Linked DNA regions of Homo sapiens. The protein of the gene in region 2 purifies or fractionates together with the protein of the main gene of each other region. This does not show direct contact. Each region holds a gene or a part of one and is shown on either strand. Other genes may lie near its edges. The genes, in order: TOM1, CUEDC1, TOM1L2 and SMURF2.

What was found.
Region 1: the proteins of CUEDC1 (region 2) and TOM1 purify together in Homo sapiens (co-immunoprecipitation; 3 studies listed by BioGRID and IntAct, with this or other methods). This does not show direct contact.
Region 3: the proteins of CUEDC1 (region 2) and TOM1L2 purify together in Homo sapiens (co-immunoprecipitation; 3 studies listed by BioGRID and IntAct, with this or other methods). This does not show direct contact.
Region 4: the proteins of CUEDC1 (region 2) and SMURF2 purify together in Homo sapiens (co-immunoprecipitation; 3 studies listed by BioGRID and IntAct, with this or other methods). This does not show direct contact.

The regions. Positions count from the first base shown.
Region 1 is NC_000022.11:35,316,880-35,323,898, forward strand, and holds part of TOM1 (target of Myb1 membrane trafficking protein), read left to right. Parts: intron 1-997; coding exon 998-1,082; intron 1,083-4,862; exon of another isoform or gene 4,863-4,968; intron 4,969-5,079; coding exon 5,080-5,158; intron 5,159-6,119; exon of another isoform or gene 6,120-6,148; coding exon 6,149-6,298; intron 6,299-6,616; coding exon 6,617-6,751; intron 6,752-6,888; coding exon 6,889-7,019.
Region 2 is NC_000017.11:57,952,403-57,960,049, reverse strand, and holds the start of CUEDC1 (CUE domain-containing protein 1), read left to right. Parts: upstream 1-4,637; 5' UTR 4,638-4,825; intron 4,826-7,647.
Region 3 is NC_000017.11:17,878,400-17,885,418, forward strand, and holds part of TOM1L2 (TOM1-like protein 2), read right to left. Parts: intron 6,370-7,019; coding exon 6,235-6,369; intron 4,465-6,234; coding exon 4,306-4,464; intron 1,345-4,305; coding exon 1,228-1,344; intron 1-1,227. UniProt on the Homo sapiens protein: Acts as a MYO6/Myosin VI adapter protein that targets myosin VI to endocytic structures. May also play a role in recruiting clathrin to endosomes. May regulate growth factor-induced mitogenic signaling.
Region 4 is NC_000017.11:64,659,298-64,667,238, forward strand, and holds the start of SMURF2 (E3 ubiquitin-protein ligase SMURF2), read right to left. Parts: upstream 3,011-7,941; 5' UTR 2,584-3,010; coding exon 2,532-2,583; intron 1-2,531. UniProt on the Homo sapiens protein: E3 ubiquitin-protein ligase which accepts ubiquitin from an E2 ubiquitin-conjugating enzyme in the form of a thioester and then directly transfers the ubiquitin to targeted substrates.

The DNA.
Region 1 (7,019 bases), on a different chromosome or scaffold from region 2:
GTACCTTGCATGAATCATCACCTCTCTTTGGGGTAGTTCTGCTGGGTGGCTCGGCATCGGTCCCTTCTGTGGGTGCCTCAGAAGGGTACAGGAGGGCCAGGTGACCTGTTAGTAATGGAGCGTTTGCTTCCTAGGTAAAGAAGCTCTCTGTGAGATTCTAGAGGAACCTGGTTACAGGGGATGCCTCTAGGAAGAGGGGGCTGGGGCAGGGGACAGAGATAGATTTACCTAGCTCCATTGTATACCACTTGAGAACTTTTACATTTTGTATCCTGTGAATGGTTACCAACTCAAAAGATAATTCTTTTTTGCTTGTTTGTTTGTTTGTTTTGGAGATGGAGTTTCGCTCTCGTTGTCCAGGCTGGAGTGTGATGGCTCAATCTCTTTGCAACCTCCGCCTCCTGGGATCAAACGATTCTCCTGCCTCAGCCTCCCAAGTAGCCAGGATTACAGGCATGTGCCACCATGCCCAGCTACTTTTTTGTAGTTAGTAAAGACGGGGCTTCACCATGTTGGTCAGGCTGGTCTCAACTCCTGACCTCAGGTGATCCACCCACCTCAGCCTCCCAAAGTGCTGGGATTACAGGCGTGAGCCACCGCGCCCAGCTCAAAAGATAATTCTAAAGTCAAGGGAGAACATCTTATCTACAGAAATGAAGCAAAGCACTGTCTCCATATTGTCATGTCAGGAATAAGCACACGGAGGCCCACCTAGATTCCCCTCTGGTGCATCCCTTTGGTGCACTCAGAGTCATGGTTTCCTCATCCATTGAAGAGCAGAGGTACTCCGGCCTCAGTGGCTACAAGAATCTAGTGACGATGGGACAATGTGTATAGAGCAGTCTCACACAGGGCCAGGCCCTGTGCCCAGGAAGTGTCTGTCATCTTCCTCCTCCCCATCTCATCCGGCCCTGCACCCCCCTCCTCTCCCACCCACGGTTTGAGTTTACCCATTCAGGACCCCCTCATGACTTTATGACTCCTGGTTTCTTCTCAGAGAAAGCCACAGATGGCTCCCTGCAGAGCGAGGACTGGGCCCTCAACATGGAGATCTGCGACATCATCAACGAGACGGAGGAAGGGTAAGGGCCCCCCAAGGAGAGGTTGGGGGCAGAGACGGCCATCCCACCACGCAGCACACTCCTGCACCCTTCCAGGGAGCCCCTGCCCCAGCCCCATTGCTGCCATAGCCACCAAGTCTGACCCAACCCGCTTGGCTGCAGAGGCCATCTGAGCCCCTAGTACCTGAGCCCCATCCAAGGTAGGAATTCACAGCTGGCCCCTGGGGGCTGCCACCCCACCCCGCCTCTCTTAGTGGCAGCCCAGATTCCACACGGATCTGGAAGCCCAGCCTTGTGTGCAGCATCTGCCTAGGATGAGGCAAGCTGGAGACTCTTAATCAGAAGTTGACCCCAAGCGCCATCTGCATTCTGCAGGCGGGAGTGTGTACTAGAGAGACTCCGGCTTTTCTGCGAGCAAAAACAGACTTCCATTTCCTTAAGATTTGAAACCAGCCTGGAGGGTAAGGGAGATCACAAGGATGGCAGGGAAAGTGAAGCTGAACCGTGAGCCTGAACAGCACTGGCGTTTGCCGGGCGTTTCTGGTGTTGGGGTCACGGTATCGTCTTGCTCAGTGCCAAGGAGCCCTGCCAAGGCACATGGTGTGGGGGAAGGATTGGGGTCTTGGCCTCCAATGTCTGACTCGTTGTCACTGACCAGCCGTGTGACCTTCGGAAGTCACTTTACCTCTCTAGGTCTTTGTCCTCGAAGGTGCTCTGTTAGATCCTTCCAGCAATAAGCCCGAGTCCCTGGAGGGAGCAGAAAGGGGATGCGAGGGTCCCTGTCCTCTCAGGAAAACCCAGCGAAGGCTGGGCAGAGGTGTGGGAGCCGTGGGCAGCAGGAAGTGCTGCCAGACGAGGCCTCCATCCTGAGAAATCAGTGTGGACCCTCCTTTCCCTCTCCAGTTCTCACTGGGATCATCCAGCTCTCCCGCGGCCAGTGCAGGGTTCCTCTCAGCCCGGGAGGGCTTTGCGTGGAGAGGCGCAGGCTGGATGCAGGTGGAGGGCAGGGAGTGCCCAGCTCTGAGCTGGAGGGAGGCTGTGGGCATCTGAGTCACACAGTCAAGGCCCAGTCAGGAGAGGGCAGTGGCTGCCAGGAACCTGCCGGTGTCTTCCTCAGCCCTGCTCCCTGATCTTGCCAAGGACTCATGAGAGTGAGGGTGAGGGAAGGAGTGGTGGGCAGAGGTCAGAAGAAAGAAAGCAGGAGGCAGAAAACCTCACCAAGCCTCTAGACAGGCCTGGGAGCTTCATGGACGTCGCAGCTGCAAGTCACTGCAGTATCCTTGGGGACAGCAAGCCCCCATGTCCCTTATAAACATGGGAGGAACAGGCTCGGCGTCGGTCAGGTGCATTGCTATTTATTTGAGCACTTTGTGTGTTCCAGGCAACACAGGAGGCACTAGGGACCCAGCAGTGATCAAAGGCAGGCATGACCCTTGACCTCACCAAGCATGGCACCTAAACTTAGCCTCGTTGCTAAAGTGTCTCCCCCACTGGGTTGTGGCCTCCTTGTCATACACTTTGTGCTCCCAGCAGAGTACCGGACATCATGGGCCCACAGCAGTGGCAAGGCCAGAACTTCCGATTCCCAGTGCTTCCCTCTAGGGAGAGAAGGCGTCCAACAAGGACGCTGTCCCTGCGCTCTAGGAGGCTTCTTCTCTCCCAGGGTGGGCCCCCAGGTCAGTGGCGCATGGCGGAACATGCCAGGGAATGATTCTGATTCCCTTGTGTCTAGGCCACCCTAGAAGAGGTGGAAAGAAGTCACTATAAAGCGCTGAAGTAGCCCGTGGGTCAGTGGCCAGGCCAAGACCAGGAGCCAGGGACGGGCGAGGGGCTGCCCAGGGAGGCAAGGGTTGGAAACTGCTCTCAGGCTTCTGGGCCAGGACCCCCCTTGGTGGGCCACCATCCCTTTCCCCACCGTGTCCCTTCCACCGCAGGCCTGACCGCCTCCATAGCTCTAGCCCCCAGGCAGGCTCTGTCCCTAGGAAGCCTTGCCTCTGCCTTCACTCCTGCTGAGAACCAGTGCCAGGGTTCCAGGCTCTCCTGCCTTAGTCCTGGATGGGGTCAGCACTGACAGCCAGGCAGACAGCCGGATGGGTCCCAGTGGCCACTGGCCAGGCTGAGAAATGTTACTTGTGCTTCAGTAGTGTGATGGGCTCTAGGAAGGGAAGCTGTCCAAAGAGAACACCATCCCTGCCCTCTAGCAAGCTTCTTCTCTACCCAGGGTGGGCCCCCAGTTCAATGTGGCATGGCAGAACAGGCCAGGGAGACTGGAGGACCTGGGAAAGTGTTGTGGAAGGGGTGGATTTTAGCTGAGGCTTCACCTCATGGATGTGGAGGTCAGGAGCCTTCAGGGTGCAAGTGGGGGCCCTGCACAAAGGCTTTTAGACAAGAGCAGTCAGGGCAGCACTGAGTATACCTGTATAGGGCCGAGGGTGGAGGATGGTGGGAATCACAGAGGGGACAGGGAGAGCAGGCTGGCACCCCAGCTTCCAGGGGCCTCCCAACACCGTGACCCCTAGGCTTCTTCAGCCCTCCCCGACCTCCCCCACACTCAGTGTGGCCTCCTCTTAGTTCCTCCAAGGCATCAAGCTCCTCTGCACCCAAGACCTTGGTCCAGGCTCTGACCTTGACCCAAACTGCTCTGCCCCCACTCCCCCCAGGTGGTCCTTCCCATCTTTCAAGGCCCAACTACAAGACCACCCCCTCGGAGGTCTTTTCTGACCACCCCCATCCTCACCTCTGCTCTTTTTCCAGGACCTGCTTATTCCTTGCTCTTCTTTGGATCTCCCCGCAAGGTGGGGAGGAGGCAGGGCCATATGGTCTTGTTTGCCACTGTGTCCCCAGCACCTAGCATGGTGCTACATACATATTGGGTGCTTAATAAGAGTTGAATGGGCCAGACATGGTGGCTCACACTGGTAGTCTCAGCGTTTTGGGAGGCTGAGGCAGGAGGATCACTTGAGCCCAGGAGTTCCGGGCTACAGCGAGCTGTGATTGCACCACTGCACTCCAGCCTGGGCGACAGAGTGAGACTCTGTCTCAGAAGGAAAAAAAAAAAAAACTTGAATGGAAGGGTAAATGGACAGATAGAGCAGCTGGCCAGGACGGGGCATCAGAACACTATGCTAGCTGGGCTCAGGGACTCATGCCTGTAATCACAACATATTGGGAGGCCGAGGTGGGAGAATCATTTGAGCCCAGGAGTTTGAGACCAGCCTGGGCAACATAGCAAGACCCCATCTCTATTTTTGTAATGAAAACATTATGCCTCCAGGTTATTTGTTCTTAAACTTGAGCATGCATAAGAAACCCTTGGGGAGCATGAGAAGCATTCAGATTCAGGGGCCCCACTCCCTGAGAATTTGGTTCAGGTGGTCTAGGGTGGGGACCTAGGGTTCTGCTTTTTTTTTTTGAATGTCCTTTGTTTTTTTGAGACAGGGTCTCACTCTGTCGCCCAGGCTGGAGTACAGTGGCGCAATCTCGGCTCTCACTCTGTTGCCCAGGCTGGAGTACAGTGGCGTAATCTCGGCTCACTGCAACCTCTGCCTCCTGGGTTCAAGCGATTCTCCCGCCTCAACCTCCCAAGTAGCTGGGATTACAGGGTCATACCACCACGCCCGGCAAATTTTTGTATTTTTAGTAGAGACAGGGTTTCACCATGTTGGCCAGGCTGGTCTTGAACTCCTGGCCTCAAGTGATCCACCTGCCTCAGCCTCCCAAAGTCCTGGGATTACAGGCATGAGCCACCGCGCCCGGCCAGGTTCTGCACTTTTAACAAAACGCTCTCATCTTTTCTCAAAGTGACTCTGCTGCTGGAGGTCCAGGGGCCACAGGTTGTGAGTCCCTGCTAAGCAATGGGCTAGGAAGATTCTGATGTGATCAGAACCTGGCTGGATACACAAAACAGGTGGGGCACAGGGAGGATGGGCCAATAAGAACTGTTCCAACTCTCCAGGGTCTCTGGTGTTAGGTAAGGGGGCTCTATTCCTAAGCCCACCCTTTTTCTTGTCCTCCTTAGTCCCAAAGATGCCCTCCGAGCAGTAAAGAAGAGAATCGTGGGGAATAAGAACTTCCACGAGGTGATGCTGGCTCTCACAGTGAGTGCCCCATCTGTCTGTCCTGTGGCAGGACTACGGTCCACTGAAAGTCACCTCCCCTCAGACCCAGCAGGACTCCCAGCCTCCTCTGAGCTCCTCATTTGAGAGCTGGAAAGGTCTGTAGGCAACGCACTGTCCTGTCTACACTGCAGGCGGATGCAGAATGGCAAGAGGCCATTTGGAAAGGTTCTCCCCAATCCCCCAGCATGGGAACAGACGCTTACATCACTCCAGAACCACTGGCAGGGAGAGCCTGGGCCAAAGGACCTGTGGGTGACATTGAAGCTCAGTAAACCCAGGCCTCCGCGGGGGCAGGGAGGCCGGCTGACTGAGTTGGGTGCTGCTCGGCACTTTGGTGCTCTGGCAAATGAATGTAAAATAAATACCAGTGGCTGAGAACAGTCTTGCCCACACCACTGAACCAGCCCAGATCTCAGGGCGGCCAGACACACGTGGGCCTCCTAGCCGTCAGCATGGGTTTGGCTGGGGAAGATATAAATGCTGTCCCACCCTCCTCCACAAGCAGCATTTATATCCAGGTGAATTGGCTTAAGCAAAAAGCAAAGGCAATTCCTGCAGTGGGAAGTGGAGAGTGGGGAGGGAAGTTCAGTGCCTTTTCCCTGGGCCACAGGCTCACCAGTCGATTGACATCTCAGATGCTCCTTGATTTCCTCTTGGAGAGCCCCTTCTCTCTAGACCATGTTTAGCTCAGAGACAGCATTGGGATTCTGCGTGCACTGACGCCAGTCAGGGAAGGAAGTCCAGCCCACACACCATACCTCTGCCCACCCTAGGCCGTGCCCTCCAGTAAACAAGTCCCCCAGTCCTGGCATTGTCCCAGTCCTCCACATTCAAGGGTCTCACTCCAGGAAGTCCCATCTCCTCTCCCGGGCCTCCTCTCTGGGACACAGGAGGAGCCACGAGGGTGGGGGTTCTGAGCACCTCCTCTCCTCTGACCAAGGTGCTCGACGGCACCTCTCGGCCCTCCAGGTCTTAGAAACCTGTGTCAAGAACTGCGGGCACCGCTTCCACGTGCTGGTGGCCAGCCAGGACTTCGTGGAGAGTGTGCTGGTGAGGACCATCCTGCCCAAGAACAACCCACCCACCATCGTGCATGACAAAGTGCTCAACCTCATCCAGGTGAGTGCCAGGACAGGGCAGGGCACGGCCAGGAAGAGCTGTCAGTGCAGGAGCTTCCTGCCCAGTGGAGAGTCGAGGCCATCGTGTTTGTCCCAGGCTCCGCTTCTCATTTCGGGGCGTCTCGGTTGTCGGCTGGTGGGATGTTCTGTGGGGAGGGAGGCTTGCCAACTGCGTGCTTTGCTGTGGAGTGGGCAGGGCAGATGTAGTTAAAAAAAAAAAAAAAGCAGGGAAAGAATGTCTGTTCTCTGTCTGAGTGCCAGGTGGGCAGGCTCACAGGTGAGCTGTGGTTACCGGCTGTGTCCCCTTGTCCCCTCTCAGTCCTGGGCTGACGCGTTCCGCAGCTCGCCCGATCTGACAGGTGTGGTCACCATCTATGAGGACCTGCGGAGGAAAGGCCTGGAGTTCCCCATGACTGACCTGGACATGCTGTCACCCATCCACACACCCCAGAGGGTGAGAGAACTGCCGTACCGGGAACCAAGGGAAGGGAGGCAGGACTCATCCCCAGAGACATCACCAGGCTGGCCCCTGACTTCCTGGGCTCTTGATGTTCCCAGGAGCCCTCACTGATCCTGTTTTCCTCCCACTAGACCGTGTTCAACTCAGAGACACAATCAGGACAGGATTCTGTGGGCACTGACTCCAGCCAGCAAGAGGACTCTGGCCAGCATGCTGCCCCTCTGCCCGCCCCGCCCATACTCTCCGGTGACACGCCCATAGC
Region 2 (7,647 bases):
TCCATCAGCCTCATTCTCACAGTAGATAATGCCATATGCTCCAGCGATCTGAGCTTCATACAGCCACAGACTTAGCAAAAGGCTTCCATCACCTTCACATTCAGTCTGTGGAAACAGCAAGTGTTCTTGGCTGGTTTTGTTTGTTTGTTTGAGATTGAGTCTCGCTCTGTCACCCAGGCTGGAGTCAAGCACGATCTTGGCTCACTGCAACCTCCACCTCCCAGGTTCAAGCAATTTTCCTGCCTCAGCCTCCCAGGTAGCTGGGACCACAGGCGCCTGCCACCACGCCTGGCTAATTTTTGTATTTTTAGTAGAAATAGGGTTTTACCATGTTGGCCAGGCTGGTCTCGAACTCCTGGCCTCAAGTGATTCACCCGCCTCGGCCTCCCAAAGTGCTGGGACTACAGATGTGAGCCATGGTGACTGCCCTGTTCTTGGCTGGTTCTAGCCCGGGAGTGGGTGGGTGGCATGAGGACAGAAAATGGGAAGAGCTGGAATGGAAGTTAAGGGCAGCCTGGGAAGGGCCTCTCTCAGGAGTTTAAATTTCATTCTCCAAGCAATGGGAAGTCATCCACCTTGTTCAGCAGTGCAGAGACATCACCGGTTTGTACATTAGAAAAGTAACTGCTGGCACTGAAAAGGATGGATTGAAAGGCAGGGCCCTGGCAGCAGGGCCTGAGCCAGGGCAGAGGAGAGGGGGCAGGTTCCAGAGAAACTCAGAAGCAGAAAGCCCTGAGTTTACTGAGGGGGTTGAATGTACGAGGGGAGGAAGGCAGCATGTAACATCTGCAGCTTGAGCGAATGGGAGGTGCTGCTTATCCAGGACAGAGAATTCTTGCAAAGGATGTGGAGATGATGGGCTCCAGGCTCCCCGCACTGAAGGTGCAGTGGCTGTGGGACAGCTTGTCCAATGGCAGTAACACATGCCAGTCAGGGGCTTGAGAGAGGGAGTGGGGTGCTCGGACAGGTCATCAGCACACTCCACTAGGTGCAGAGGGGGTAATGTTATTAATAAAACTTGGCTGGGCACGGTGGTCCACGCCTGTAATCCCAGCACTTTGGGAGGCTGAGGTGGGCAGATCACCTGAGGTTGGGAGTTTGAGACCAGCCTGACCAACATGGAGAAACCCCGTCTCTACGAAAAATACAAAATTAGCTGGGCGTGGTGGTGCATGCCTGTAATCCCAGCTACTCGGGAGGCTGAGGCAGGAGAATCGCTTGAATCTGGGAGGTGGAGGTTGCAGTGAGCCAAGATCATGCCATTGCACTCCAGCCTGGGCAACAAGAGCGAAACTACGTCTCAAAAACAAAACAAAACAAAACAAACAGACAACAACCAAAAAAAAAAAAAAAAAAAATAGCCGGGTGCGGTGGCTCATGCCTGTAATTCCAGCACTTTGGTAGGCCATGGCGGGCGGAGGTCGGGAGTTTGAGACCAGCCTGGCCAACATGGTAAAACCTCATTTCTACTAAAAATAAAAAAATTAGCTGGGCATGGTGGCGTGCACCTGTAGTTCTAGCTACTCGGGAGGCTGAGTTGGAAGAATCGCTTGAACCTGGGAGGCAGAGGTTGCCGTGAGCCGAGATCGCGCCACTGTACTCCAAGCTGTACAACAAGAGCGAGACTCTGTCTTAAAAAAAAAAAAAAAAAAAAAAATATATATATATATATATATATATATATATATATATGCAGTCTGCAAGTGGAGCCATGAGGGGTTGGTACCTGCCCCACTCTATTCCCCCTGTGAGAACATCTGGAAAGAGGGGTTGGTTAGAAAGTTAGAGGACTCAGCCTTGGAGAAACCCCTGGGGCAGGCAGAGCTGAAGAAATGAGGGAATGGATAGAAAGACGCAGAGGCTAGGAAGCCATGAGGGTGGGAATGGTTTCAAGGAGGCGTTAGCAACATCCAGGGCTCCAATGGAGTGAAGGAATGGGATAGGGAGGAGGCCCATGGGTTGAAACAATGAGGAGCCTAAGGTTGCCTCCCTTGGAAAGGCATCTTCCCCTAGAAAGATGCCGGTGCCTCCCTGTAAAAATCACCTTCCCCTAGGATGAAGGGGAAGAAAGTCAGATTGTAGGAAGTTGAGGATTGAATAGGGCTTGAAGAAGCAGAGAGTGGGTCTGGTTGCTTCTTAGGGGAGGCCTACTGATGAATGCAGAAGAGAGAAACAGGGCAATGACTTGAGGGCAGGGCAGGGTTGGGGCCAGGTTCCCTTAGAAGGGGGTATCCTGAAGTGTTTGTAGTTTTGAAGCAGAGGGGAGGAGAAAGAAGAACTAACAGAGTTTCCTGAAGCACATAGGAGGTTGGGCTGGAAAGCAAAAGGGACATCTCTGGAAGAGCAGAGACAATAGGGCCTGAACCAGGCAGAAGTGGAGGAGTGAGGCGGTGAGAGAAGGAGAAATGAACAGGATCTGATAACCAGTGGAGGGCCAGGGAAGCTGCACAGGAGACAGAGGCTTCCAGCCTCTGAGCCAGAGGTGGATTCAGGAGAGTAGGAGGAGGTGGCTTAGGTAGGGAAGCGGTCTCAGTCGCCTTTAGCCTCCTTGAGTTTTAGGTGTCTGGGAGACTCACAGGTGGCCCTCTGTAGGCGGCTGGTGTGAGGGGCTGGAGCCCTGGGGGCTCAGAGGCAGTGGTGGGAGTGGGTGGAGGTGTCTGGGGGTGGGGAAGTTGTGAGAGGCAGGGAAGGGGTCTGAGAAAAAGCTTCCAGAAGGACAGACCCAAAAGGAGGAGTATGTTAGCAAAGCCCAAGAAAAGTGTGCTTCAAGGAAGAGTGTCCATTAGAGCAACTGGTTTTATTAATGACTATAATAATAATGTATTTAAAAATTTTACTAGCCGGGCGTGGTGGCACCCACCTGTAACCCCAGCTACTCAGGAGGCGTAGGCAGGAGAATTGCTTGAACCTGGGAGGCGGAGGTTGCAGTGAGTTGAGATCGTGCCACTGCACTCCAGCCTGGGTGACAGAGCGAAACTCCGTCTCAAAAAAAAAAAAATTATGAGCAATCCATAGGCGAGTGCAAATGGAAATCTCCAGGTTTGCAGATGCATTTTTCTGCTCCTGAAATGCCAAGGTGACAGGAATGAACTGCAGAGGGATCTTGCAAGTAAGCAGGAAAGTGACAAATGAACTGCACTATGGGTAAGTGTAAGGTAATACACTTGATAACATAATCTAGACTATATTGGCCAGGCGGACAAATCCTGAGCTCTCAGTTACAACCTGGGAAAGGAGCCAGGAGTCAGTATAGAGGCATGGGTCTGTCCCTTCGGATTAAGAATCTTTAACCTGGGGCCTGAAGACCATCTTCTGGGATTTCAAGCACCCTGCCTCCCCCGGAAATTGAATGCACCAGGGAGTGAAGTGTGGGGAGAGAGGAGCAGGAGAGAGGAGATCCTCAGAGGGGTTTGGAAACCCAGTCCTGGAGTTCCGTTCAACATGCTAACCTAACGTTGGGCCTCCCCGAGGAGGGTGTGGTTCTGAGGTTTCTCCCCCTCCCAGTTTCCCACCTTGCTGAAGAAACTTGCCCTTGACATGCAAATGATGGAAACACATTGGTGTCTGGGGCACTTTGGTTTGTGGTTTTTACCATCAGCTGTCTCTGAGGCTGAGCGTGTCGATCTGTCTCAGCAAGGCTAGCAAATTGCAAGCGCTCAGAGGAGGGGAGAGGGGGGCTATTCCTGGGGTTCTGGGCCCAGATGGGCAAATGGGTCTGTAAGGCAGACTTTTCCAGGAGGAGGGTGCAGACCCTTTGCAAGTTGTTTGGGGACAGAGCTTAGTTTGCATCTGGCCTTCTTCACCCTCCTCAGATCCCCTAGGTAGCAGGGTGCTTGGTGGTCACCACCTGACCTAGGCTACCTACTCCCAAATTGGAGTCTGAAATGAAAGCACGTGGGAAAAGTATAGCAAAGGTCAGTTTCCCATTTATTAAACAAGTTCTTCCGTGGAAAATCTTCCCAGGGCTCAGCAGCCCTTGAAGTGATCAGGGATGCTGGGGAGGTTGGGGGAGGAGAAAATGGGAGATGGCAGGTGGTATCTGTCGGTGTGGACGAGTGATAGCTTTGATTTGCTCCCCCTTCCCACCATCTCCTGTGTCCTCAGCATTTGATTTGGTTTCCTTTCCGGGGCCCTAATTCCAGGGAGGTGCCCCTCCTCCACACCTGTGTCCCAAGCCCCAGCTGTGCGTCCTCACCCTGGGTTCCTGGCACTGACCTGGAACCTGTCGGGCAGCCCTGCTCTTAGCTCCCCGCGGAGTCTCGGAGGTCTCAGGTCTCCTCCGCCCACCCTCTCCGCAGCTGGGAGGGGCAGGATGCCCCGCACCCCGCTCTGCGCGGGAGGTCGAGGCACCCCGCTCACGCCCTCCTGCCCGCAAGCTAGGGAGTCACTGCGGCCGGGGAGGGAGGTACACGGAGGGCATTTTTCCAGCCTTCACTGGGTGCTCCCCTCTCCACCCCCGGCAACCATGTAGGTTTCCGGACCCCCAGGTCCGCTTCCCTCCTCTCTGGAAAGGGGTCGGCCATAGGGAAAGGGCCCGGGGGCGCCGCAGCCGGGCCCCCGCCCCGCCCCGCCCGCAGCCCCGCTCCTCCCCGCGCGGCCCCACTTGTGGCCCTGCCGGCAGCCGCGCAGGGACAGCTGCATTTCTCGCCGCCCGCCGCTAGGAAGCCGGCCTCGCCTCACTTTCTCCGCCTCCCCGCGCCCCAGCCGCGCCGCCGCCGCCGAGCCTGGCCCCGCCGCCACCGCTGCGGATTGCAGCCCCTCCCCCGCCCGGCCCGCGGCCCGGCCCCTGCGGCCCGCGCGGAGCGGACGCGCGTGGCGCTGCCCGGTAAGACCCCCGCGCTCCCGCGGCTCCCGCCCGGCCCCGGGCGCGGTCCTCGCCGGCGCCCCGCGCGCAATCCCGGCCGCGGCCCCGGCCCAGCGGCCCCACCTTCTCGGGACCCGTTGCCCAGGCGCCGCCGGGAGGGCCGGGCCGTCGCGAGTTTGATTCCCGGGGCTGTCGGCGCGGCTCCCCGGGAGCTCCGCGTGCGGCAGGTCCCCGCCCGCCCTTCCTTCCCGAGCCCCCACCTCATCCCGGGCCCCGGGCGCGGGGGGCGTGCGGGCATCTGGGGGGCCGGGAGCGGGGCGCGCGATTAGACCGGGGGGCGCGGGCCAGCGCCGCAGGGAAGGGAGACGAGGCCTCCCGGAGCCGGCTTCGCCCGAGTCCCCTCTCCCGCCGCTCCCCCTTTTGTGTGGGCGCCCCTCCCCGCAGTGCCCGGGCCTGGGGGCGCAGGCTGGGCGGCGACGGCAGGCGGGGGCGCCTGCTGGGAGCCGAGCGCCTTTCAGGGGGAGGGGAGCTTCGCTTCCTGCCCCCCGCCGATGTCACAGGTCGGCTCAGCCTTTTTTGGTCCCTCCCGGTCCCCTGGGAGCTGTATCTCCCGTCAGCTCGGCCAGGGAAAGTTGGGAATGCGCTGTCCCCGCCCCTGCTCGCCCGCCCCGCCGGCTCCTGTGCCCCAGGCTCTGAGCTCCAAGGGGGGCTGGTGTCAGCGTTTATTCATTCCTCCCTCTTCCTTTTCTCGGTCGCGTGGTCGCCTTACACCCAGCACTGCCCTGCCCATTTCTTTTCCCCTTAAAAAAAGTTTTAGCTCTAAGAAACGTACACTGAAATTAAATTCCTGAGACGGAATGTGTTTTAAGGGGAGGGAGGGTTTAGATTTTCCTTTTTTTGGTGGAGTAGTGGAGTAGAAGATGAGGGGACTCCCTGGGAGTTTAGAAACAAGATGCCCTGGAGGCGATAGAGGATACAAGAAGACCATCCACCGTGCTCCCCACCTGATCCGCAGTCAGCGTCTTGTAGCGAGAGGAATGAGCCTTCCCTGGGTGATCCCGCAGCACCTGAGCCACCTGGCCCAGGAGAAAGGACTCAGGGAGATGTACTGGGCCTTTCACCCCTTTTCTTTATAGCCAGCTGTGCCTGAAGGAGGTGAGGGACCCCAGGAATTCTCTCACGGAGGAAGTCATCTCACCATGTGGTTGGGCCCCTGCTGGATCAAGTGTGAAGCTGGGTCCTCTCTGTTGTTGGGGGTCAGTGCCACTGGTACCTCAGTTTGAATATGGTGCCATCTCTGGGATGGAGAGGTGCTGCTGGGAGAAACCTGGCTCGGGTCTCCAGGAAGCTGGAGCGTGTGCAGCAGGGCTGGGTGTGAAACCCGCTGTCCACTTTCTGCAGCTGGAAGGGCCAGGACAAGGGAAACAGGATACTGCTACCGACCTGGGCACATCCTTGAATAGAAGAGAGACCCTGGACAGCGAGGATGGCCCAGGGATGTTGATATGACTAGGGCTGTATCCCCAGCTCCTGGGCCAGGCCAACTAGGGCCAGAGGTTGGAGTCATGGGCCCCTTTGAGAATCTGGTGAAAGCTCTAACTCCTCTCCTTCCAAAATGCATGTGTGTAGGGAGACACCTGTATTCAACACCAGACGGTTAATATACCCCCTTGGAACCAGGACCTCCATTGAGACCTCTGCCCTAGAGTTACTGGTCTGACCTGGGCCATCAGAACAGTTGTCACCTTTTTGGCTGGTCAGTGAATAATCCCAGGGTTCAAAGAGCAGACTGCTTCTAAGGTCTTTTCTCATGACCTCCCTATGCAACTTTGGGCTTGTGGCCATGGAGACCTGGAGTGTCTGGACAGATCCCAGCTCCCTACAGCTAGCTAGAGGATGGGGGCAGATGAGGTGGCCCTTTTCCAGGGGCTCATTTTGCTGTCTGTGTGGTGGGAAGGCCCTGGGCACTGGACTAGGCCCACTGGTCTATTGAATTAGAGGTAAATAAAGGGATTTGGGTGGAGGTGGATATTCTGGTGTTTCAGCTGGGTGTGAGATCCAGGCCTTTAAGAGCTCCAGCTTGTTCTTGGGGAAATGGGGTTGAGGTGCTTTAGTAGAGAGTGTTAAGTGTGAAAGACGACTCTTAAGGAGGTCTTGGGGCAGAATTGTCCAAGGCTATGATCTGGGTGTTGTCGGTTCCTTAGATCCCTTTGGACTCTTGAAGGCAAGTGGGGGCCAGAGGGCTGCTGTCACTATCCCCAGTGCAGCCCCAGGCCAGAGGAGGCCTGGCCTGCCTTTCCTTTCTTGGCTCACTGGGTCCTGGGCTGCTGCATAGGTGTTTGTGGCATCTACACTTGCTAGGGATCTGGAAGAGCTTTAGGACGATCTGCCATTTGTGACTTCTCTACCTTGGGACTGAGAAGACTTCCTTAGGCTCAAGTCCCCCACAGAGAGCTGTAGGGGATTTTTCTTTGTTTAACTAGAGAGCACAGTGTTTGGCATATGGCAGCACTCACACTGGTATTCTTCCTTTAGAGCTTCCTACATTTGCTCTGGTAATAAGCAGCAGAGGCAGGAGTATTCTAGAGCCTTGGGGCACAGGAAGCTGGGTGTCTGACAGGGGTCACCTCTGACTATCCAAGGTGAGCTGGAGGAGGTGGTGCTTCTGTGTTGCTGGCTCTTGCACTTACAGGAAGCAAGAGCTATAAAGGGCATTGGAGGCCGGATGCGGTGGCTCATGCCTGTAATCCCACCACTCTGGGAGGCCGAGGGGGGTGGATCACCTGAGGTCAGGAGTTTAAGACTAGTCTGGCCAACATGGTGAAACCCCGTCTCTACTAAAA
Region 3 (7,019 bases), about 40 Mb from region 2:
CAAAAAGCTGCAAGCTCCAGGGACCACAGCTCATGCACCTCTGTGCCCCTAGGACTGTGTTTTGTGTCAGGCCTGGAACAGGTCTCCACCCACCCTCACCCCCATAAGAGCCGATGGCTTTGGAGTAGGAAGGGGGCACAATAAGCAGCAACTTGGGACCAGGACAGGGCCTTCACAGGCGGCAAGCATGTGCCAGCAGCAGGGTAGAAGGTGTAGCACTTGGGGACCAAGACTGACAACGGAGGGCCAGACACAAATGGCAGTATCAGCAGCAGCAGCAGGTGTATCATGAGAAACTCATGCCAGGTTGCTAAATCAGTCTGGCTCCTGACCTGTTCCCTCAAGCATCTTGCCTCCCATTGAAAAGTGTGTGGGGCCTTGCAGTTCACAGCATCCTTCTTCCACCCTCCAGAAGGTCACTGCTTCTAAGGGCAGTACCACTGACATTTTCTGCAAATGCCAGGGTCATCTGAGGCTGGGTGTGGTGGAGATCTGGGCACTGGCTCTGGACCTGGCTGCCCTGGGAAACAGGCCTGAGGTGGGGGCCTTGACCCTGGTTTCAGGGGTAGACTGCAGGCCGCCCACTCCTGGACCCCATTCTGCCATGCCCCCAGATCCATGGGCTGTCCAGAGGCGGGGAGGCCAGTTTGCAATGGCAAACCACAATATGCCTGGGAATCCTCAGTGTTAGGGAAAAGCATGGGAGCATCACACTTCATCTCAGTCTCAGGACACCTTGGGGGTGAGGTGCCACTACAAGGGCTCCTGTGCACAGTCAAGGTTGAACAGGCCCTCCTGCAAAATGTGATGTTGAGGGACCAAAATACAGAAATAGTACAAGCTCAACTACATTTAAAATAAACCTACAAAAAAGTCAGAAAGAAAATACATCAAAGCACCTACAGTGGTTATTTACAGATGCTTGGGTCAAAGAAAGTTATTTTCTTTTCTGTGCTTTCTTTTTCTTTCTGTGAGCATGTATTCTACAACTGGCATTTTATAATCAGGAAAAAAATGTTATTAAGGAAAATAAAAAAGACAGACAGTGGTACTGGCCTCTGCCTGTCCGTAGGCAACGTGAGGCTGCATGTGTGCTCACATGGACTATCAACAACAGGGCCACTGGACCTGTCCCGCCTTGCCGCTGTGTCCCCGGGTGGGATCCTCCAACAGTGTACGGTGGAAGAGCTGCCACCACAGGCCAAGTGCTTCTGAAAGATGACTCACCTGCAGCAACTCCAGATCAGATGAATCCTCCTGTCCAGGGACCATTTCTGTTAACATCTCAGACATGACTTTTGTGTTTCCTCGAACGACGTCCAGTTCACTCCGCAGCCTGGCAATCTGGTGGGGGCCACGAGGAAGGAAAGCAGGAAGGAAAGGTCAGTCAGCCTGCACTTGCAATATCAGAATCAGCTTGCTCCTAGTCTAGTGACAATCCTTCTCACTGGGAGATCTGGGTTGCCTTTCTGAGTGCACACTGCAGAGGCCACCTTCTCATCTCCCTCTGGCCTGCCTGTCAGCTCTGAGAGAGCTGAATGGGCCCTGCCACCAACAGTCTGTTGTGCCTCTCTGACTGTGACACGAAAGCAGTACCACGTAGTGAAGGGCTCCGTGTCAGGAGTGCACCAAGCTGGCTCTCCGTCTCGGCTCTCCCACCACGGGAACTTGAGTAGAAGCTGAACCTCTCAGGGCTTCCGTTCCTGCTCTTTAAAATCCAAGTGCAGGAGGGCAGGAGCTCTGAGATCCCTTCAGAGCTGAGATCCTATTCTACAAAGCTCTGAGTTATAGACTCTGCTCCTAGGAGTTTTACATCTAAACACTAGGATCCCTCTGAGAGGCTGGGCAGTGTCAATAGCACTTTTCTGCTGCGGCAAGAATGAGAGAACAGGGGAAGACGACAGGGGAGACACCTTCCCCACCCAGCTCCCTACATGGTAACACAGCCCCTTGAAAAATACCCAAGTTGCCCATCAGCGATCCCAAAGCCTGGACCTGGGCCAAGGCCCAAGGCTCCTCTCCAGCAACAGAGACATCATACACTTTCTCCCCTTGCCCTCAGTCCTGTGCCTCAGATCTGCCCCTTCACTCCCTCAACCCCCTCGAAGGATCTGCAGAAACCACAGGGACCTTCCTTGCCCACAGTGAAATATCATAGAAGAATCTGCATAGAGGTGGCTACTGGTCCCATCACTCAGTGACAAGAGACCAAATAACGCTGGACAGAGGTCAAGAACTGCACAGGACACTGGAGGGAGCCCTGGAAGACTCAGCAGCAACATCCAGAGCCGGACCTGAGCCTCTCTGAGCCTTCGTTTCCTCACCTACAGAAAGGTGGCACTAACCTCACCAGGCTGCTGTGAGTTTCCCATGCGGCGCCTGGCATGCAGGTATGCTCTCTACTACACACATACGGCCCTTGTTCCTGCTCAAAGGTCCAGAGAGAGGAACTGTAATGTCATTCTTCCTGCACTGTGACCCAGCTTAAGTGACAACTTCTCTCCCCAGTGAAGCCTTTTCTGACTCTCCCCACCCCATCCTGAGGTAGAAGCAACCACTCCCGCCTCCTCAGGTTCCCACTCGCTGTGCCATCTTCCACTATTGCAGCTGTAGCAGCCTCTCCTGTGTGGGTGGGCTCTCTCAGCAGACCTTTAGCTTCTTAGGGCAGGAACTCAGCTGGGTTGAGCTTTATACCCTCAGCACAGAGACAGGGACAGGAGACCTCAATCAATGGTCTACCAGGGAGATGGTCTGGGTCCTGAGAGGCTCTTGTTAGCCTCTGGCTCTGCCTGGTGGATGATCCAGGGGTTTTCTTCAAAGTCTTGGTAGAGAGAAGAGGTTTCTGGCTAGGAAGGCCCAGGAAGGCTATGGGCAGCCACCCAGTAGACTCTGAAGCCCTGGGTCCTCTTGGCCAGGCTGGGTGCTGACCTGCCTACCTCTGCTTGCATTCTGCTCTCCAAGGGGCAACATGCCTCAGGGCTCCTGTGCTACCTATGCCCAGACCCTGCAGACCCAGCATCTTCTGGCTACTAGGAGGGCCTTCCCAAGCACCTCCCACACTTTGAGTCGGTGAAGGGGCTCAGTAACTGTCCAACTTCAAACATTTTCTGCCTTCCCTCAGAGCAGGAAGGGCACAGTTCTGCCCATAGAAGCAGGGCCAAAAGCCAGAGACCTTCTTTCCCACAGCACTTGGGTAGCCACAATGAGGACCTCTTCCATCTGCCTGTCAAGCCCACAGCTGCCTGGTGGGGTAACAAATCACTTGTTCTACTGATGGGAGACCGGGGTTAAATGTCCTGACTGAAGCCTAGAGTGAGCAGCAGAGCTGGGGGCTCACACCCAGGCCCTGGGGGCTTCAAGTTCACTCCTCCTGCTCTCACCGTACTCCCTGCTCAGAGCTAGCAGGGAAGTGTGAGGAACACGACACAACACTGCCATCCCTACACACACATTGCTATCCCTACACACACATTGCTTGACCCCTCTGCTTCAGTGAGGTTCCACAGTCATGACATTGTCGCAAATAGTAAATAAGGATTTGGTAAATATAAACATTGGAGAGTTTTTTTTTCCCCCAAGTCTGACCAATTCTCAAATTGTAACTAATTGAAGTTCTATGGATTCTTCTAAAGAGCACTCCCCAATTCATCTAAAAAATCCAGTGTGGGGTTAAAACTGCATTAGTTTATCAGGAAGTAACCCGGGAGGGTGGGGAGTGTTTGGGATAAAAGCAGGCTTCTTGTGCTTCAGGAGGGCCTCCCTGATCAGGTCACAGGCCTCTGATGGCTGACTTTTTTTATGGGATAGATCTAAGCCTCTGCATGATAGACAAGCCCGTCACAACTCAGCTGCACGTCTATGCTTTTGGCCTCACATTCTGCCATGGTTTCCTCCCAGATCTGGGCCCTACATATGCGCCTGCTCTCCAATCAAGCCACCTGCTGCTCCGAGAGAGCAGCGTCTGCATCTCTGCATTTAAATGTCATTGCTGAGCATGCGGTCTCACCTGACAAAGCCCAACTCCTGTGTCAGGACCCTCTGCATGTCAGGTCCCCGGTGCCTCCCAGGCACCACTCAACCCTGGGCTCACAACTCTGAGCCCTTGGTTCTGCTCCCCACCACAGCCTGACCACAATCCATCATGACTTCCTCAGCATCTCTCTCCCCTGGGGATTGAGCCCTTCCATCTCTGTGTCCCTAACACCCAGCACAATACCTGGCTTGGGAGGCCTTTGTAAGTGTCTCCCAGAAAGATGAAAAAGGATAGTCAGCTGGCTTGCCTATGGCCCCGAAGTATGCAAGTACCTGTTCTGAATTGGCTGTGATGGGGCCAGTCACACTCAGAGCTGGGGCCTGCGGTGCGGAGTAGGGAGCAGGAGGCGGCGAGGAATAGGAACCAGCACTTGTCCTCTGCTGTGATTGGGACCTGGGCATGGTCGCAGCTGGATCCACTTCAGGGACACTCTGGCATGGCAACAACAAAGTCCTCTGTTTACCTGGGCTGCCTGCATAGCTGGACCTGGTACCTACCCCACCCCATGCAGCACTTCCCCAAGGCTGCCCACGAAAGGCTCAAGGCCCTGCTCCACTGCTGCCCGGGTGAGGTTCACAGAACCCCACTGAGCCCAGGCTCTCCATCTGGGAAGTGGGGCTGCCAATGGCTCCTCCCTCTACTTACCTCTCAAGGAATGTGTGGCAGACCAATGAAAGCAACTCCAAAAGGCAGCACCGAGAGTGCTCTGTGAGCCCTCTGGTCATGGTTCCTATTATTAAGACCACCTCGGGATCCAAGTGGAGGGAGGGCGGTTATTAAGTTTTGCTAATCACAGATCTTTACTTGGTACCATAAGAATTACTTTTTTGGTCTTTACAAGTAGACTAATATAAATAGTAATTATGCAATTTACCAAATGTTTTTTGTAATTATAGGAACAACAACACTGCTCTCTGTCATTATTAGAAGAATGAAACAGGTTATGTTGATTTCACAAAGCATAGCGCGTGGTCTGGAGGGATCATGATGAAAACAGCCTCCAGAAAGGGCAATCCCCTGGGCCAGGTGCGGTGGCTTACGCCTGTAATCTCAGCACTTTGGGAGGACGAGGCGGGTGGATCACAAGGTCAGGAGATAGAGACCATCCTGGCTAACACAATGAAACCCTGTCTCTACTAAAAATACAAAAAATTAGCCAGGCATGGTGGCGGTCACCTGTAGTCCCAGCTACTCAGGAGGCTGAGGCAGGAGAATGGCGTGAACCCAGAAGGCGGAGCGTGCAGTGAGCCAAGATTGTGCCAGTGCACTCCAGCCTGGGCGACACAGCAAGACTCCGACTCAAAAAAAAGAGAAAGGGCAATCCCTCATGCTTGCCCTTTGGGTATCTCAGATGACCTCTTGCACATTAAAATTAAGTCGTGTTCCTACGAGAGATGTGCACAGGTGTGCTATCCTTCTCAGAGATGGGCAGTGGGGGCAGGCAAGGTGAAGTGTACTGGGATGAGGTGCCTCTCCCAGACCCTGGTGCTTTCCTGGCTCTCCCCCAGGCTAGGAGTGGAGTTGATTCCCAGCCAGTAGAGGGACTAGCTTCCTTGAGAAACCATGAGGCATGACCTACATGCTTTTAACCCTGAAGTGCCAAGCTGCCCCCTCCACGGTGCTCAAGTTACTGTTGGCACTGCAAAAGCTTTGGTGGGATGCCCCTAAAGGGACCTTCCCAGGGCTTTGATCCCAAGGCTGATGGAATCAAGGATTGAATCCAGAATCAATTCTGGATTGATGCTGAATACTCACAGCTCAAAATAAATTTTAGATCCATTTGACTTGGTACAATTGAAAAAACAGAAAGCTACTTTTTGACCCAAGAGTGACATCAAGCCCTGAGGTGCTATGGTGCTCTGAGGGACAACAGGATTCCCACACCAGATTCTAGGGGCCTCTGAAAAGCAGGTGCTAATGACCCTCACAGGATGGCTCCGCCCAAGTAGCCATTTCCATGAAAACCCTGAACTGATCCCTTTATTATATTCTTCCACAGACACTGCTGCCACTTAATCACCAGTCAACCAGCTGTCTCACTCCTGCATGCCCCTTGTTATTAAAAAGGAATGCCCCCGAGCTTTAAGAAAGCATGATGACAAGCTGAATAATTCAAAGGCAGCAGCAGAAGGGTGGCTGCAGCAGCTTGGCTCACCCGTTCTGCAGTAGGTCTTTCTAGAAAGTGCCAGCTGGAAGCTTACCCGCTGTGGTGTGTGTATGGGAGACAGAGCGTCCAAGTCTGCCATGGGAAATTCAACCCCTTTCCTCTTCAGCTCCTCATATATGTGCACAACGCCGGTGAGATCAGGACTGCTTCGAAAGGCATCAGCCCATGCCTGGGATAATAGAAGGCCTGTTAGGAAGCATTTCTCAGAGCTGCCATGGTATCTGAAAATCCAAAGTGGCCCACGTCCTCTCCCCGAGACCAGTGCTCTCCTACTTGCACATGCAAATTGCACTGGCTAAACCTATTCTGTTCCTCTCCTTCCGCAACTGCTGCCACGACACAGCTGGTGAAACCCTGGCTTTCAATGGTGCTGCTGAGCGTGAACAAAAACACAAAACTTAATTTAGCATGTATTTCCTTGGAGAAGAGACAGAGAAATAACACCTATGCACGGTGGTGCATCCTAAAAAGCAGGAATTTCCCTAATGGCAAGGAAATCAATTGCTGGGGCTGTTCAGCTGCAGGGAGTGGAAGCTGGAGCCTTGTCAGCTCAGCAGGGTGCCTGCCCTCTGTGCGGGAGCACCTCTGCCCTGAAAGCTTCTACTGGTGGAGTTGGGAACCGGCAACAAATTGAGCAGAAAGGAAAGGAGAAATTGATGTGTGACATGAAGTAAAGGCTAACTACAGGTTTCCTCAGATCAGAGACAACTAATGCTGAGCTTGTCTAGCCTAGCTCTGTCTAGCGCTGCTGCCAGTAGGTGAGATGACTGTGGTTCAAGGGAAGAAGAGCCCATTGGGAGCTAGACCCAGGCCAGACTG
Region 4 (7,941 bases), 6.7 Mb from region 2:
TAAAATACTAATATGGTATTAACTTAAAGCAAAGAACAATAATTTTAAAACACCTTATAGCCCAAGTGTATTGTAAACCAAATATAAATTCACTGTGGGATCTGTCTTTTTTTAAGTGATTTTTTTTCCTCTATTAGGCAACCCAGATCTAAATGAACTGTTAAACACTTAGTCTAAAGGTATGCCAAACATTTCTTAAGGTCTTCACAAAGAATCAACTTTTTTTTTTTTTTTTTTTTTAAACAAAATGAGGCCTAGGTTAAATATTTTATTTGGCTTCTCAAGATGGACTGAGAAGTTGGGCACCAGCTCCAGACCAATTCCTGGACGCACATCAAACACAGCCCTGTCATTTATCCAGTCAGTCAAAACAATCTTTTCCATCTAACCCTTTAATGTTTATGTCCTAAAAAGCTGCTAATTGAATCCAGCTCTTGAGATCTATTTGCTAAAATCTATACCATCTAATTTATAAATGATGAACAAAAATGGAAGAAAAAATATGTTAACTTTCCTGGCAAAACAGAAGAGACTCCACTGTAACCAAAGAAGGAAGGACAATGTTTTTAATATTTGTCAAATTTTAAGAGAAAACTATTCAGAGACAAATAGTTGTAAGAAACTCAGAGTACCTCAAACTGTTTTTACTATTAAGAGGACACAGGGTATTTAAAATTCCTCAGAAAAACCTGAAACAAAATCACTATAAATGTAGTTCAATATTCCCCCTTCCCCTAAAATATAAGCATAATCTTTCCTCTTAATAAACTTTAATTATAAATTCTTATAATGTATCATAGGCAGTACGGAAACCACAGATAAACACTTTAAGATCTATTAAGTCATACTAAAAACCTCAACTAACCTTATCTGCAGAAAATCAAAAACCCAATTTTTTCCCTCATTTTCTCTACATAGCCCAGAGGAGGGTAAATGGAAACAGCCTATTTCTGATGCTTTCTGCACACCTGGGATCACATGTTCTTTCCACGATCACTGACTACAGACAGCAACAGCAACAGATAAACTCTAAAGCAACAAAGATCCCCTATAAAGGTTTCCACTGACTCCTCCCAATGTAAGGACACTGAATGAGGGGGGAGGGGGTGGAATACAAGTATCCTCCAATCCAGGTTTTCCATTAAGAATCACTCAGTTAATGATTCCCTGCAATTTTCCCTAGGGAAAGGAAAACTGCCATGAAAGTAATATATTATTTAAATTGCAGCCAACATACATTCAAGCTAAATTCTCAAATACCAAATTCACTGCAAGTTTTCATCCAGCAAGTTCAGCCAGTGGACTGGGATGTGACACACAGGCATTTAACTACAAAATTAGTCCAAATAAATCTCAAAGTCTAGTGTGGGCAAACATAATTACAGTTTATCCGTACACGTGCACGCACACACAAATCCTCTACGGAAAATTATCTTTCTCACCACTCACCCGAATACAAACGTGGACAATTTATCAGGGGTAAATGGTGAAGGTAGGATAACGCCGTGATTCCAATTCCTTTACAAACCAAATAAAAGTTCTCCTAAAACGGGGGTGGCATGTCCATGTAAGAATACCAAAAATGGCACTGTAAGCAAAACGTACCTGTAATGTTAAAGATTTCATGCACCTGGAATCATAAACACTTTGTAAGTGTAGTCTTCTATCTGGCAACCCCTCCGGACATTCTTTTCCATTTCGAAAAAGGAATGGGGAGGGTGGGGAGAGTAACAGAAAGTTTGCTCGAAAGTTTGTATGAGCACATACTTAGCAATGCACCCCCCCCAAAAAAGTGTGTTTTTAAAGCAGGTCTGGCGTTAGAAGTTAGACACAAGTTCTGCGGCCTAAAAGGAACAACCCCAAACATGCCACCCTACAATCAGACACTTCCAAAACACAGTGTACAATGAGCCCAAGCCGTCGGATCAGACAGGCACACCGGAAAAGTCAACCTGTCTCCTCACCTCAGAGACATGAGTTTAAGGTGTGTGGCCCGGGCAGCGGTGGCCGGCGGCGGGGAGTAAAGGTTTTTCATGCGGGCATAACTGGGTGTGTGCAAGGTAACAACCCGGGAACACACACGCACACCCTCCCGTTAAGCGCTCCATCTTTAAGGAGTGTTTACTGCGCGCAGTCAGCAACCGGATTCAATAATCCTCGCCACGGGAGCTCTTCATCCCCTTCACGATCTCACCTGGGCGGTAGCCCAGGGGCTGTTCCCCGAGCCCCGGGAGGCAGCGTCTGGCTCCTTGACCAAGACTTTCCGACCTGAAATCCGCCTGCGATGCGAACCGGTGTATTCTCCCCTCCACAAAACACCACCCCCCGCCCCGAGTCATCCTCGGCTTTTTAAACAATGTCCAAACCAGAGCAAGTGGTTTTCCAATTACTCTCCCTGAACTAGGCCTTCCCATTCCTCCGACCCCCAACTCATCATTGATCGCGACCCTGGCCCTTCCCAAGGCCACAGGCACCCCCCGCCAGCTCGCCCACCCCGCGGCTGCCCAGCCCGGCCCGCCGCCCCCCCTCACCTGTCAGGCGCAGCTTGACGGGCCCGTTCCTCCGGCCTCCGGGGTTAGACATGTCCCCGGCGGCGGGGGCGGCGGGGGCGGCGGGCGGCACGGGGGCGACGGCGAGGCGCGGCGGAGTCACCACAGCGGCCGGGGCTGGGGCCCGAGCAGCCGGCGCCTCGGCCGCCACGGCCGGAGGGTCCCGGATGTGCCGAGAGTCGTCGCCATGAGCCGCGGAGGGAGCGGGACGCCGAGCTCCCCCCTCCTCCCACTTCTCCTTCCTCGGCCCGGGCCGCACAACAAAGCGGCAGCCGCGGCCGCCCGCGCCGCCTCCGCCCGCGCCCCCGCCGCCTCCTCGCGGCCGCCGAGGCCTTTCCCTCCTCTCGTCTCGGCGAGGCCCAGTAGCCGACGGGGCTGGTCGGCTGAAGCGGGCGGTGCTCGGGGGCGCCGGAGCAGAACTCTGGGCTCGGCCGCTTCCTCCTCCACCCGCCCTCTTGTCTGAGGGACCCGGGACCTGGGGCCGCCGCCGCCACTCGTCGGCTCCGGGGGGCGGGGAGGAGACGGGAGGCGGGGCCGGCGGGGCGGGGCGGGGCCGGGGCGGGGCCGGCGGGCGCGCGCAGGGTGCCCTGGCGGGCACCGGCAGTCAGGGAGGGTGTGAGCTGCCGCCGAGGGTCCCACGCGGAACGCTGGGAGGGAGCAGGCAGGGAGCAAAGCGGCGGCGGGCGCGGCAGCTCTGTGGCACCTGGAGGGGTTTACTGTCCGGGCCACTTAAGGGAGAACTTTTGTCCAAGCAGGGCCAACTGCATTTTATTAGACGCCCACTGCGTGCAGGGCGCTCCGAGAGGCTGGGGCGAGGAAGGTTAGAACCGAGTCCGCTGCCTGCCGGGAACTTGGCGTCTTTCGGGCGAGGGAAGAGAAAGCATTCCCACGCCGATGGTTCCAGCAAAACCCCAGGAATGCTCTGCTCCTGGTCTTGTAGTTGACACCTCCATCCGGGACTCACCTGGTGGAGGAGATCAGGTTACCTGCCGACTCCCGCTCTTTTCAGGTGCAGCCAAGGATGGGGAGATGATACGTCTTAAAGGATTAACAAGATAAACCTTGGAGAGTAATGTATGAAGAGTTGTTCATACGCTACTGTATTTCGTTATCTCAGGAGGAGAAAGAGAAAAGTTTTTAAAAAATGTGTACCTTATCCTTTGACATTGTAACTGTACTGCTAGAAATTTATTTTTTATTTTTTTGTTTTTAGACAGGGTCTCCCTCTGTCGCCCAGGCTGGAGTGCAGTGGTGCGAACACGGCTCACTGCAGTCTCAACTTCCGGGGCTCAGGTGATCCTCCCACCTGAGCCTCTGGAGTAGCTGAGACCACAGTGTGCACCACTACGCCCCACTAATTTTTGTATTTTTAGTAGAGACATGTTTAGTAGAGACGTTTAGGTTTTCCCATGTTGCCCAGGCTGGTCACGAACTCCTGACCTCAAGCGATCAGCCCGCCTCGGCCTCCCAAAGTGCTGGGATTACAGACCTGAGCCACCGCACCGGCCCTATTCTTGACAAATAATCGTACAGAAGATGTTCTTTGCTATATTCCATTAATAACAAAAGGGGAATGAGGGAATAGCATAATAGTCCAGGAACCGCATGGTTTTTTATGCAGCCATGTAACTATTTTTATGAAGATCATATAATATGGAAGAATGTATATGTAATGCAAAGTTTAAAAACAGAATAGAAGTTGTATGCATATACATGCGAAAGTATCTAGCACAATGTAAACTACTAAGGACAATAGCGTGGGGGATTTTTTATGTGATTCGTTAGTTTTGCTTTAGGCTATTATAACATTAATGCAATTTTAAATGTTTTGGATTAATATATTTTAATCCTTATTCCATGCCAGTCATTTCTTTTAATACATCAGTGAACTCACTTCTCCAGATAGTTACCTGCGAGAACATTTCATCAGTTTGGATACAGCCCTACAATTAAAAGTAATCCAAAAAAGTATATGAAGTTCTAGACATCACACTAAAAATACCACAGATAGGCCGGGCACAGTGGCTCACGCCTGTAATTCCAACACTTTGGGAGGCCGAGGTGGGCGGATCATTTGAGGTCAGGAGTTTGAGACCAGCCTGGCCAACATGGTGAAACCCCGTCTGTACTAAAAAAAAATACAAAAAAATTAGCCGGGCCTGGTGGCGCATGCCTGTGGTCCCAGCAATTAGGGAGGCTGAGGCAAGAGAATCGCTTGAACACGGGAGGTTGCAGTGAGCCGAGATCACGCCACTGCACTTCAGCCTGGGTGACAGAGCGAGACTCCATATCAAAAATAAATACATAAATAAATAAAAATTAAAATACCAGAGATAGTGCCAGCAATTCATTCAACAAATATTAAGTGGCCATTTTGTGCAAAGCAATGAACAAGGTCCTTTAGAAATGCTTCCTTGTACTACAAATATATAGAAATCAATGTGAACAATAGCTGCTACCACAATTTAAGAGGGCAGACAGTGGCAAAAAACTTAGCAAACTAATGTACACATACACATTTGCCTTATTTTTACAGCACGCTTTGTTCCCAACCACCCAACTAACATAATTTGTAGCCTTGTATTAGGTAATAGAAGTTAGGATTTCAGAACGTCATGGGAGACCTGGGGGAGACTGCTTGTTTTGAAGTTGAAAGCAGTAAATTAAAAAATGTAAGTGACAGCATAGAAAAATGTATATAGGGTTAACGTGCAGAGGTTTGTATTTAGGCTTTCTTGTAAGGTTAAATCCTGTTGTTTAAAACAAATATTCAGATAAGAATAACACTAAAACCATTCAAGGGCTGGGCATGGTGACTCATGCCTGTAATCCTAGCACTTTGGGAGGCCGAGGCAGAGGAGTCACTTGAGCCCAGGAGTTTGAAACCAGCCTGGGCAACATGGCAAAACCCCGTATCTACAAAACATTAGCCAGGAGTGGTGGCCTGCACCTATAGGCCCAGCTACTCAGGAGGCTGAGATAGGATCACCTGAGCCTGTGGAGGTCAAGGTTGCAGTGAGCCGTGATCACACCACTGCATTCCAGTGCCACTGCATTCCATCCTGGGCAGCATACTGAGACTATCACAAAAATAAAAAGAAAATCAATGTACTGGTAATGATTTTTTTAAGCAGGTACATGGATGTTCATTTTATTGTTTTCCTTGCCATCTTAAATATTGACATTGACTGTAAACATTTATTTAAAAGTAACTAAATGTTTAAAATGAAGTAAAATAAATGAAAACATAGAACAGGGGCAGAGCGTGGTGGCTAACACCTGTAATCCCCACACTTCGGGAGACCAAGGTGGGAGGATCACTGGAGCCCAGGAGGTTGAGGCTGCAGTGAGCCATGATTATGCCATTGCACTCCAGCCTGGGCAACAGAGTAAGACCCTACCTCAAAAAACAAATGCACTCAAAAACAGAATACTCATAATAGGAAAGTCATTTTGAAGGCCTCTCTTAAGTGAGTGGCCTCATCTAGTCCAGGCTCAGATTTCAGAGACGATTGGGTTAGAAAGTTTAAAAAAACAAAAAAGTTTATGTGTTTCTCTTCCCTTGGGGATATGTTTATGTCCCCAAAGGGGGATATATATACATTATAATGACAACATGTAGGGAATTACCAAATTAATAGCCGGAACTTGGGAAAGATAAGACGGAAAATTAAGGGATGGGAATCTTAGGTAAAATCAATTATATACATTCAGGTGTAAAAGTCTTTGAGGAAAGGAAAATAGCATTGGACATGAAAACAGAACCATTCTTTTTTTTTTTTTAGACGGAGTCTCACTCTGTTGCCCAGGCTGGAGTGCAGTGGTGCAATCTCGGCTCACTGCAACCTCCACCTCCTGGGTTCAAGTGATTCTCCTGCCGCAGCCTCCTGAGTAGCTGGGATTACAGGCACCCACCACCACACCTGGCTAATTTTTGTATTTTTTTTTTTTTTTTTAGTAGAGACGGGGGTTTCCCCATGCTGGTCAGGCTGGTCTCGAACTCCTGACCTTGTGATCCACCCTCCTCGGCCTCCCAAAGTGCTGGGATTACAGGCGTGAGCCACTGTGCCCAGCAGGACCATTCTTTACATATCAAAATATTACTATGAGATTCATTCAGCCACCATTTTTATTTTATTTTATTTTATTTTATTTTATTTTATTTTTTGAGTTGGAGTCTCACTCTGTCACCCAGGCTGGAGTGCAGTGGTGCGACCTTGGCTCATTGCAACCTCTGCCTTCCAAGTTCACGTGATTCTCCTGCCTCAGCCTCCGGAGTAGCTGGGATTATAGGCACCTGCCACCACCCCCAGCTAATGTTTGTATTTTTAGTAGAGGTGGGGTTTCACCATGTTGGCCAGGCTGGTCTCAAACTCTTGACCTCAGGTGATCCGCCTGCCTAGGTGTCCCAAAGTGCTAGGATAACAGGCGTGAGCCACCGCGCCCGGCCCTATTCTTGAAAAATAAGTAATAGTACAGAAGATGTTCTTTGCTAAATTCCATTAATAACAAAAAAGAAATGAGGGAACAGCATAATGATCCGTAAACTGCATGGTCTTTTGGGGTTTTGTTGTTGTTGTTGTTGTTGTTGTTTGTTTTTTGAGACGGAGTCTCCCTCTGTCGCCAGGCTGGAGTGCAGTGGCGCCATCTCGGCTCACTGCAACCTCCGCCTCCCAGGTTCAAGCAATTCTCCTACCTCAGCCTCCGAGTAGCTGGGACTACAGGCGCGCGCCACAATGCCCAGCTAATTTTTTGTGTTTTTAGTAGAGACAGGGTTTCACCATGTTGGCCAAGATGGTCTCAATCTCTTGATTTCATGATCCGCCCACCTCGGCCTCCCAAAGTGCTAGGATTACAGGCGTGAGCCCCTGCGCCCGGCCAACCGCATGGTTTTTTATGCAGCCATTTAACCGACGATTTTTATGAGGATCATATAATATGGTAGAATTTATATGTAATGCAAAGTTTAAAAACAGAAGAAAAGTTGTAAGCATGTACATGCAAAAGTATCTAGCACAATGTAAACTACTAAGGAAAATAACGTGAGAGTTTTTTATGTGATTTATTAGTTTTGCTTTAGGTTGTTATAACATTAATGCAATTTTACATGTTTTGGATTAATATACTTTAATCCTTATTCCATGCCAGTCACTGCTTTTAATGCATCAGTGAAGTTGCTTCTCAGGATAGTTACCTCCAAGAGCATTTCATCAGTCTGGATACGACCTTACAATTAAAGTGATCCAAAAAATATATGAAGTTCTTGACATCGTACTAAAAATACCAGAGATAGGCCAGGCACAGTGGCTCATGCCTGTAATTCCAGCACTTTTGGGAGGCTGAGGCGGGCGGATCATTTGAGGTCAGGAGTTCGAGACCAGCCTGACCAACA